Linked DNA regions of Homo sapiens. The protein of the gene in region 2 purifies or fractionates together with the protein of the main gene of each other region. This does not show direct contact. Each region holds a gene or a part of one and is shown on either strand. Other genes may lie near its edges. The genes, in order: NCEH1, TMEM38A and LZTFL1.

Region 1 (3,751 bases), on a different chromosome or scaffold from region 2:
GCGTGGTAGTTCACACCTGTAATCCCAGCACTTTTGGAGGCTGAGGCAGGTGGATCACCTGAAGTCAGGAGTTCAAGACCAGCCTGGCCAACACGGTGAAACCCTGTCTCTACTAAAAATACAAAATTAGCTGGGCTTAGTGGCAGGCATCTGAAATCCCAGCTACTCGGGAGGCTGAGGCAGAATGGCTTGAACCCGGGAGGCAGAGGTTGCAGTGAGCCAAGATTGCACCATTGCACTCCAGCCTGGGTGACAAGAGCGATGCTCTATCTCAAAAAAAAAAAGAATAGCTTCTAATTTTCTACACATATACTCACACACAAACATAAACATAAACATTCCTATCTGTTTAGAGTTATGAGTTTAACCAGTAACTTAAAAGACAGAGAGAGAGAGAGAGAGAGAGAGAGAGAGAGAGAGAGAGAGAGAGAGAGGCCAGGTGCCGTGGATCATGCCTGTAATCCCAGCACTTTGGGAGACTGAGGTGGGCAGATCACAAGGTCAGGAGTTTGAGACCAGCCTGGCCAGCATGGTGAAACCCCATCTCTACTAAAAATACAAAAATCAGCCAGGTGTGGTGGTGGGCACCTGTAATCCCACCTACTGAGGAGGCTGAGGCAAGAGAATTGCTTGAACCCAGGAGGTGGAGGTTGCAGTGAGCTGAGATCGTGCCATTGCACTCTAGCCTGGGCGAAAAGAGCAAGACTCCGTCTCAAAAAAAACAAAAAACAAACACCAAAAACAAACAAAACAAAAAAAAAAGAGAGAGAGAACTTGCTTGAAATACCATGAAAGTGTGCCCTTCTTATCAGTTTTCCTTCAATGTTGAAGAAGAAGCCAACTGTTTCCTAAAAATCTCATTATCAGAACCAAATTTATGGTTATTTCACTTCTATTAATTTGATTAAATTAAAATTACCATCTTAAGATGCATAATTATATATACTAGGTGTTTTAAGACCTTCATCAATAAGTTTGGAGTTGTCATCCTACCACTTTCTTGAAACAGGTCTTCTAACTGTTTTCCTTCTGGATTTCTGGTTGAAATTTTGCTAGTGAAGTTTTCTCTCTCCCATTCAGTACTCACCCACCCCTCCTCACCCCCAATCATTAACAAGAAATCTGGGTTTAAGTGTATTTCTGCTACCATTGACTCACTGAAAGAATTTTTCAGGTGATATCCACACGTTTCTCCAATAAAAAGTTATTATTTTTTCCCTTTGTAGTAATTTGTGGAGAGATCTTCTGATGAAGGACCAAAATTCTGTGTCAAATTTTTACCCTCTAGTTTTAGCATTCATTTATGATTTTCTATGGATACTAGCTGGCATTCTATTTTAAGAAAAGCCTTTCTTCTTTCCTCATTTATTTATATTAATATAGATTGTTGAGTTTTATTTTAATCAATGGGTTATCCATTATGATGATTTATATTGATGGTAAAATTATCCCAGCTTCAGCCACTGGGAGACCCTTCAAGCTGGCAGCTGTGGACCTTTGACCAGTTCCTATCATTTTTTGAGCACTTCCGCATCTCTGGCACAACAGGTTCATCTTGTACTTTACAGCCCCAGCCCTGGTATCAGCCTTTTCTCCAGAGGTTGTGTCAAAAAGCCGTGGTTCCTCTTATTGGAGCATAGGATTTAGAAACCAAGACTTGGGTGCTAGATGTACTACTGGCCTTTCATTGCTTGAGCCAGAAGAATTTAATATCTTCTTTTGCCATATATCAGCTAGAACTTACAAACCACTCCAAGTCTGGCTCCAGAAAACAGAATTTTTATATCCTTTCTCAGTACTCTGAGTCAGAATGACCCACTTGCTTTGTCCAGAGACTCGTCACACTGAAACTATTTTCCGTTTGAGACCTTCCAGGAGGAAAGCCATCCTCACACGCATGCAGTACAAACCAGTGTCCTCCAGAGTCCGCTGTGCCTACGGCCAGAGCAGCGACAGAGCCTTCCTCAAACCTGTAGTGACTGCCACACTTTGCAAGGACACCGTAGAGGGGGCATGTCCGCGCTCCAACTTCCTCCCGACGCAGCCTCTGATTGGCTCCTGGGCTTATAAGAAACGCGTGAATGAGCAGCTGCCGCGGGCAGAAAGTTGCCGGAGGTCTCCGGGTGGTATCGCCCTTTCCTCTTTGCCAGCCCGCTGGCGAGCCGAGCCAGGGCAAGATGAGGTCGTCCTGTGTCCTGCTCACCGCCCTGGTGGCGCTGGCCGCCTATTACGTCTACATCCCGCTGCCTGGCTCCGTGTCCGACCCCTGGAAGCTGATGCTGCTGGACGCCACTTTCCGGGGTGCACAGCAAGTGGTGAGGTGCAGCCCAGCGCTGCTTCTCTCTTCCTCCTCTTACGCAATATTTGAAGGGGATACAAAATTCCTCCGCCGGGTTCCACGAAAACGCAGGTTTTTCCTAATGCATTGAGGCTGTCGCTTTTTGAGGTGGTCCAGTCGGGAATTTTCAGGGTATCGCATTCGCCTCCTTGCTAGCAGCGGGCTAGATCTGCATTTCCCCGTCTGCGTTTGTGACGGGGAAGAAGTGCTTGAATAGAATTTGACAACTGTTTAAACCTTCGTCTGTCCTAAATATCTTCCTCTTCCTTGGTTTGCAACGTCAAAAGGCAAATCCTTAAGCAGTTTATAAACCACCCTTCTTCACACTGTCGTTCTCCCATAGGGACCGGCAGAGGATAAATATTTTTAGGAGAGCTCGGGAAAAGCAGGCTCTGGTTCCTGGGAATGCAGCCACCTTAGAAGCAGAAGCAGGCAAGGGCAGTCTCGCAATGTCCCCAGGCTGTGGAGCGCTCCGTTCCCGGAGACAGCAGGCAGGGCTCTCCATCCAAGCACTTGAGGAACCATAGGGATCTCTCGTTTCACCCGAGGCAGATCTCAGCTCAGCCCAAGAAAGAGGACTGGGAGGCTGGGCTGGCTGAAAGGAGGTGAGGAGGCGGCAGCCCTGGTTTGCATGATGCATGTTTTCTGCTTGCCCTGCAGCATTTATTTTATGTCCTTGGCTGTCAGATAACCTTTTCCTGAGCGAGGTTACCTGCCTTAACCTGGGAGGGTAACATTTCTCTCCACTGTATCATGGGCGTGTGTTCATTCCTTCCATACACAGGAAAATATAACTGTCTCTGGTTTATTCCATGGTAAGAGGCATTATTTTTAGTGTCAGAGAATCTAAAATCTAAACTACAGTCTGCAGCCAAGGCTGAGCCCTCTGATTGGACAGTATTTCTGAGCAGCCTGCTCTATCTAAACTCTAACCTTCTCCAAAACCAAGCCTCCTCCCTCCCCACAACCTTGGGCTTTAATCTCAGAATATTTTTATAAACTCTTTCTTTCAGAAATGACAACTAGAGAAAGAGAAAAAAAATCATTTCAACCTGAGAAAGCTGATTTTAAAAAAGTCATGATTTTCCCAGAGGGTTTATGTTCCTGTTCCCTGTCCACTCATTATGTGTAGGATTACATAATCTGTGGGGCTTTATCCTATGAAAAGTCCCCTTACTAGGATATTGCAGCACATTCCTAGCGTGGATTTGCTTTTCCTGAATTCAGCCACATTCTCACCTCCAAAGCCCCTTTTGTCTCTTAGGAAAGGTCTATGAAGCTATAGACCCCTGCCCCCCTTCTTTTCCTCTTGCTTCCTATAATGTTGACATGGTGAAAATGATCATCCCCTTCTTTAGCACTGGTGTCAAGAAAGTCAGTCTTGTTGTAGGAAGCCTTGCATTCCCTCTCCTC
Region 2 (3,751 bases):
CACAGCTGGGGAGGGAGCGCTACTGGTATTTAGTGAGTCGAGGCCAGGGAGGTGGCTCACCATTGTATAATGCACAGGTTGGCTCCCCATAGCAAGGAATAACTGAGGACACCATGGCTCAATGGAGGGTGATTCTAGGTCTTGGCACTTTGTGGGTACCCATATCTGGTGGGCAGGAAGCGAGGATAAAGTGCCCAATGGTTTTTGGCACTTGCTCAGGCCTTCTTTCCCTGCTTTCCTGTTACTCCTTGGCCCACTTCTCCAACTTTTAATGTTGAATTATCTCTTTCTCCCCTAACTTCTGTCCATTTTTGCTTTATGTATTTTGGTGCTCTGTTTCTAGGTGCATATATGTTTATAGTTGTTATATCTTCCTGGTGGATTGACCCTTTTATCATTATAAAACGTTCTTTATTTCTAATAACATTTTCATTATTACTTTATTTTTTAATTTTAATTTTTTAGAGACAGACTCTTGCTCTGTTGCCCAGCTGGAGTGCAGTGGCACAATCATAGCTCACTGTAATGTTGAACTCCTAGGCTGAAGTGATCCTCCCACCTCAGCCTCCTGAGTAGCTAGAACTACAGGCATGAGCCACCATGTCTAGCTCTATTTTCTGCACACGAAAGGGTCTGTAGGCTTCACTGGCAAAAGGGCCATGGTCCACAAAAGTTAAGAACTCCTATAGCTAGAGCTCTAGAGAAGAAGGGGTTCTCACCTGCAGCCATTTTGCCCTCTAGGAGGCGTTTAGCAATGTCTGGAGACAATTTCTTTGTCACAGCTGGGGACAAGTGTGCTACTGGCATCTCGTGGGTGGAGGCCAGGGGTGCTGTTCAACATCCTATAGTGCACAAGGCAGCCCCCACCACAAAGAATGATCCAGCCCCACATGTCAGTAGTGCTGCAAGTGAGAAAACCTGCTCTGGCAATGCTGGCTTTTGTCATCATCATCACTGTCTTAGGTACCCCTGACAGTAACATTTCTAGAAGAATCTTCCCATTTACCCTAAAGGTATCGGCTGATACCTGTAGGGAGGTTTGAACACCTACTGCAGTCTTTATGCCCCTGTGCCTGGAGCAATGGCTTTCCTAGCTGGGGTGCCTGGTAGTACCACTGAACCAAAAGTTCTCCACTGGGATGATTTTTCATTGTCATCATCCTATTTACCTTTGACCCACCCAGTTGCAATCATGACGAACCACCCGTGGTGGTAGTGGTGATGGGCGTGATGGATGCCCACCGCGATCTTGCGGACTCGCACCACCTCCTTCATGGCCACGAAGATGAGTTTCACAGGCAGGAAGCAGACACACTTGTAGAAGAGGTCCAGGGGGCAGAAGAAAATCAAGTACCTTTTGGGGAGAGAACAGTGAGTGCCAGGGGATGGGCAGACTGTGAAGGATGGGGGTAGGGAGCTGTGGTTATATCAGACCACCCTCCCCAACGTGCTGTGCCTAGACCAGAGATGGGCATGGAGGGCAGCATATTCAGGGCCATCATGAGGGCTGTTGCTGGTGCATTCTAATTCCTCCAACCTCTCTCCTCCCTGGTGCCCAGGTTGTTGTTTCCCCCACCCGGCTCTGCTCTCCCATGCCCAGCATGGCTTACCAGACAGCTGAGGCCAGCAGGATGCTGGAGTTGTTGCTGAAGTAATCGATCAGTGGCTCCCCAAGGAGCAGATCAGCCAGGATGTAGCTCCCGAAGCAATGCAGCATGGCGCACAGCCAGGACGCGATGGGGTGGCGCCGGGACAGTTCGACTGCTCCTGGGAGGCACAGGAGTGTCCCCCATCATCACCAGCATGCCAAGGGCAGGCTTCACTCCCATATGCTCTGGTCAGCCTATCCTAATCCAGAGCGCCCACCCAACACTGTGCAGTTTGTAAGTTTCAGAGGAGGAACCAAGGTTCAGAGAGGCTGTACGCATGCCTGAGGTTGCACAGAGAAAATAGAGAGCCGAGTGGGAGTCCTTTCCTTCATGCCCAGAGAGGTGGCAATGATGATGACACTAGTTCACATTTAGGACTTAATAAATCCTCATCAGTGTCCCAGCCAAGTGATGGCTTTTATTATCAGGAGTCTCATTGTCAAGAGGAGACTGAGGCTTGGTGAGACGGGCCAGCTTGTACCTGGGAGTACTTTGAAATTGCTACTCTGGGCCGGGCATGGTGGCTCACACCTGTAATCCCAGCACTTTGGGAGTCCAAGGTGGACAAATCACTTGAGGTCAGGAGTTCAAGACCAGCCTGGCTAACATGGTGAAACCCCGTCCCTAAAAATACAAAAATTAGCCGGGAACGGTAGTGCATGCCTGTAATCCCAGCTACTCAGGAGGCTGACAGGAGAATCACTTGAACTCAGGAGGTGGAGGCTGCAGTGAGCTGAGATTGCACCACTGCACTGCACTCCAGCCTGGGCAACAGAGCAAGACTCCATCTAAAACACACACATACACACACACACACACACACACACACACACACACACACACACACACGAAACAAAAGAAATTGCTATTCTGACCTCAGCTGATCCCAAGATCCCTATGAGCTTATGCTGGTATTCTTTTTTTTTTTTTTTTTTAACTTTTTTTGTTTGTTTCAAACAGAGTGTCACTCTGTCACCCAGGCTGGAGTGCAATGGTGCAATCTCAGCTCATTGCAAATTCTGCCTCCCAGGTTCAAGCGATCCTCCTGCCTCAGACTCCCGAGTAGCTGGGATCACAGGCAGCCACCACCATGCCTGGCTAATTTTTGTATTTTCAGTAGAGAAGGGGTTTCACCATGTTGGCCAAGCTGGTCTCCAACTCTTGGACTCAAGTGAACCTCCCACCTCAGCCTCCCAAAGTGCTGGGATTACAGGCATGAGTCACCGTGCCCAGCCTTATGCTGGTATTCTTACACCTGCTGTCTTAAAAAGAATTTTTTTTTGTAAAATATACATTAAATTTATCACTTTACTTTTTTTTTTTTTTTTTTTTTTTGGACACAGGGTTTCACTCCCATCACCCAGCCTGGAGCGCAGTGGTGCAATCACGACTCACTGCAGCCTTGACTTCCTGGGCTCAAACACTCCTCCCACCTCAGCCTCGAAAGTATTTGGGACTACAGGCACGCGCGCCACCATGCCAGGCTAATTTTTTGTATATTTAAAGTAGGCACGGGGTTTCGCCATGTTGCCCAGGCTGGTCTCAAACTCCTGGGCTCAAGCCATCCACCTGGCTCAGCTTCCCAAAGAGTTGGGATTATAGACGTGAGACACCATGCCCAGCCCATTTTAAACATTTTTAAGTGTATAGCTCTTTTTTTTTTTTTTTTTTTTTGAGACAGAGTCTCACTCTGTCACCAGGCTGGAGCGCGGTGGCGCGATCTCGGCTCACTGCAACCTCCTCCTCCCGGGTTCAAGTGATTCTCCTGCCTCAGCCACCCGAGTAGCTGGGATTACAGGCATGCGCCACCACGCCCAACTAATTTTTGTATTTTTAGTGGAGATGGGGGTTCACCATGTTGGCCAGGATAGTCTCAATCTCTTGACCTTGTGATCTGCCCACCTTGGCCTCCCAAAGTGCTGGGATTACAGGCATGAGCCACTGCCAAGTGGCTGGCCAAGTGTGTGGTTCTATGGCATTATATTCACATTGTTTTGCCATAATCACCACCAACCATCTCCAAAACTCTTTCATCTTCCCAAACTGAAACCTATTAAACACTCACTCCTCATCCCCCATCGCCTAGCCCCTGGCACCATTCT
Region 3 (3,751 bases), on a different chromosome or scaffold from region 2:
AATCATGCATTAACAGACAAATCCCTTAAACATGGTCTTCTGACCTTTTCAGCCATGTGCAGCTGCTCCTGAACCCTGAGTAGATCGTGCTTGGCTGTCGCCAGATTCTCCTCCAGTGACTTCTGGTTTTCTGTCTTGTCATTAAGTGTCTTCTGAAACTCACTCTTTAAGGCAGCGACAGTGTTTTCTAAGTTACTTAAGTCTTGGGCCTTTATAAAATCCTATGAAAAATAAATGCATGCATGTAATTTCATGTTGATATTCTAAAAATAACTGTTTTAGAATGGTGATTCAACATCATAGGAGATGAAAAAAATGATGTATGTTTTGTGTGCATGCCAGCCTCCCTTGCCAGCCTAGGTAAGTGCCAGCCCCTTCAGAGTCACCAGCAGGCCAGTCCATTGTCAGCCCTGGGTACGTGGTGTCTTGCACACAGCCGACACTCAGTAGCCACTGAATTCCAAATACATAAAATATGATTTGTGAACTGCTGGTATTTCCATCCAAGATGTGTGTACCAGGGTTGAGATGGCAAACAGGTTTCATTTTGAAAAGCCAAATTTAAAAAAATCCTCAAAGAAGTTTGAATTCTTCAAAATGATAGAAAAAATGATAAAAGTAATATAATTTATACCAAAAACTTAATAGACATATGTTTTAGTCATTATTTACAAGGAAATAATATGAGAGCACAATTACTGATTACATGGTTTTCTAAATTTTTAAGATTTTAAGTTTTTTATATTCATGAGATATGTGTAATTTTTGCATACTTTGACAACTATAGCATAAGACAGGCACTGGATCTTCTCTCTTCCTGGATCTTGTTTTTGACTGGATAAGATTCATGACAGAAAAAACATTTGTACTGATAAGACAGTAAAATGGTCTACAATTGGTTAATATGTAGATGAAGAAATACTTAGTACTTTCAAGTGGCTCTCACGCCTGTAATTCCAATACTTTAGGAGGCCAAGGGAGGAGGACTACTTGAGCCCAGGAAATTGAGACCAGCCTGGGCAACAGAGCAAGACCCCGTCTCTACAAAAAATATAAAAAATTAGCCAGGCATGGTGGCACATGCCTGTGGTCCCAACCACTTGGGAGGCTGAGGTGGGAGGATCGCTTGAGCCGGTGAGGTCAAGGTTGTAGTGAGCCATGGTTGCACCACCGCACTCCAGCATGGGAAACAGAATAAGGCCCTGTCTCAAAAGAAAAAAAAAAAAAAAAAAAAAAAGTACTTTCAACAGAAGAAAAAAAAAATCTTTCCTCATTTTTGAAATCTGGTCTTTGAAAAAAAGATTTTCATTGCAACTAATAAAAGCACGTATTCACTGGTTGTTCTTGTGTCCAAAATCTTAAAGTAAAATTGGAGCAAAGCCCCAAAAAGCTTTTAAACAAATTCATCAGCCACATGTGTTTGCAATTGTTTGACTTAGGAGAAATTATAAAGCGGTTCTGGAACATTCGTGTTTTTATAAATCTATTGTCATTGGCATATAATGGTTGAAAATCATTAGCTATATAAGAAGTATCCTCCTATTTTAAAAATATCTACAGATAAAATGGTTCAACGTCTGAGATTTGCTTCAAAAAAACATGGCTGGTGGGAAGAAGAAAGTAGAGGTACAAATGAAACCAGACTGGCCATGCATTGGTAACTGCTAAATAGAGTGAAGAGTGCATGGGGGTTCATTATACTATTCTCTCTACTTTTGTGTATGTTTGAAATTTTTCATAGAGAAAAGATTAGCAAAAGCCCAGTGAAGCAGATTTTGGGTTTGTTTACCAGACATTTGCAATGAGAGTATGACCACTAGAAAAGCCAATGCTGTACTGAATATCTACCCAAATGGTCCTGCTCACAGGAAATCATACTGCAGCATGCACACTCAACAGAAAGTCCACAGGAGACAGACTGTACATACAATGACTTCCCGCAGGCGGAGTGACATTCAGTCATTACATTCAGACAAGCATGAAGAACTACAACACTGGATTTCATTGTACTCTATGGTGCCGGCGGGTACAGACGCATCTGCAGATTCATAATCATTTTGTCACACTCATCAAAGGCAAACTTAAGTAATGTTCAGTATAATAAAACCCAAATATAAACCAATTAAAAACTTTTCTTTTCATTTTCTTTCCCCTCCACTGTAATTGGATGTCAAAGTGAGAGGGGAAACTTAAAAAAAAAAAGTGAGAATATCTTGCATACCAGGAAGATTGTAGAAAAACTTAAAAAATAAATGTGAGAATATCTTGCATGCCAGGGAAACTGCAGGTGTGTGAGCTATGTACTGTCCCCTCTGCCCTAGAGGATGGACAGAGGGAAGGTCACTGGTTCTCACCAGGCCTTTTGGGGGCAAGAATGTCCCAACACATGACAATAGAGGCATTTGTCTCAGGGAGTAGCAGGGGTGGGGTACAGTGAGCAGTAACTAAGACTTAATTTTAAGTTTATAACTTCATTCTACTTAGAAAATGTGAGAAAGGTAGCTAAAACTTGTTTCACCTTTTGATTTCCTTGATCAAGCTGTAAATCTTGCAGTGCTTTTTCTAGTTTTGACTTTTCATCCAGTGCATTTGTAGCCTATAGTGAAGTTTAAACAAAACACTTTCAGTATTTAATCTGTAGGCAGTTCAATAATTGTGTCAAAACATTTCTCAGTTACCTGTATTTCAATGGTCTTCAACCTTGACTTCAATTTCTCATTCTCTTCTTGAAGTCTTAAAATTTCCTTTGTGAGTAAATTCAAATTTTATTATATTAACCAAAATATTTTAATATTTGAAATTATTACTTGTTTCACTTAAAAATCTAATTTTTAAATTTAAATTACATAATAGCTCAAAAATGTACTACTGATATTTTGGTAATATCCCAATTTCATCCAGCCTATCAGCCTCAGTATCTGTGAGTCAGCTTTGGATCTAAGACATCTAGTTTCTTTTCTTTCAGTTTCTCAGACACATCTTCCCTCTTTCAGTCCTCTGTTTTCTGTTTTCAAATTTTTTTCCAAAGACCCGCTTCCCTGCCAACTTTCTCCTAGCTGGTCCTGCAAATCCTGGGTCTATTCTCAGCCTACACTGCACACTGTTGCCCCTTATCCTGAGAACTCCTTCACTTCAGTACCATGCTCAAGCCCACAGATGCTTCTGACTGAGGTGAGGCCAAACACTTTTGTTCTTATACAGCTCAAACATTTGAATCATCTGTGTTATTTTTCAGTAGACTCAAATAAACACATCAGCCCAGTCAGAGGGCACTGCACTCTGTTTCAAGTCATGCCGCCTCCTGTCTGACCACTGCCTGTTCTGTTCTCCTGCCCAACACACTCACTTCTCTTTCCTCTACAATTTAACTGGTCTTCATCCTTCAAGGCCCAGCTTAGGTACCCCTTTACCCAAGAGCCTGTTCTCACCTACTGTTATCCACACACAACTGAGTCTTCTCTGCTACCCAGTATGACACCTGTAGCACACAGGAGAATATTCTCTGGTCTCTATTTCTAGAACATCAGTTCTACTTTCCCAATAAAACTATTACATTTTTGGCCGGGCACGGTGGCTCACACCTGTAATCCCAGCACTTTGGAAGGCCGAGGCGGGCGTATCACAAGATCAGGAGATCAAGACCAACCTGGCTAACATGGTGAAACCCCATCTCTACTAAAAATACAAAAAATTAGCCGGGCGTGGTGGCAGGCGCTACTCGGAGGCTGAGGCAGGAGAATGGCGTGAACCC

What was found.
Region 1: the proteins of TMEM38A (region 2) and NCEH1 purify together in Homo sapiens (affinity purification with mass spectrometry; 3 studies listed by BioGRID and IntAct, with this or other methods). This does not show direct contact.
Region 3: the proteins of TMEM38A (region 2) and LZTFL1 purify together in Homo sapiens (affinity purification with mass spectrometry; 2 studies listed by BioGRID and IntAct, with this or other methods). This does not show direct contact.

What each region holds. Positions count from the first base shown.
Region 1 is NC_000003.12:172,709,411-172,713,161, reverse strand, and holds the start of NCEH1 (neutral cholesterol ester hydrolase 1), read left to right. Parts: upstream 1-2,094; 5' UTR 2,095-2,177; coding exon 2,178-2,315; intron 2,316-3,751.
Region 2 is NC_000019.10:16,678,000-16,681,750, reverse strand, and holds part of TMEM38A (trimeric intracellular cation channel type A), read right to left. Parts: intron 1,768-3,751; coding exon 1,611-1,767; intron 1,355-1,610; coding exon 1,170-1,354; intron 1-1,169. UniProt on the Homo sapiens protein: Intracellular monovalent cation channel required for maintenance of rapid intracellular calcium release. Acts as a potassium counter-ion channel that functions in synchronization with calcium release from intracellular stores.
Region 3 is NC_000003.12:45,828,395-45,832,145, forward strand, and holds part of LZTFL1 (leucine zipper transcription factor-like protein 1), read right to left. Parts: intron 2,745-3,751; coding exon 2,679-2,744; intron 2,597-2,678; coding exon 2,519-2,596; intron 222-2,518; coding exon 45-221; intron 1-44. UniProt on the Homo sapiens protein: Regulates ciliary localization of the BBSome complex. Together with the BBSome complex, controls SMO ciliary trafficking and contributes to the sonic hedgehog (SHH) pathway regulation. May play a role in neurite outgrowth. May have tumor suppressor function.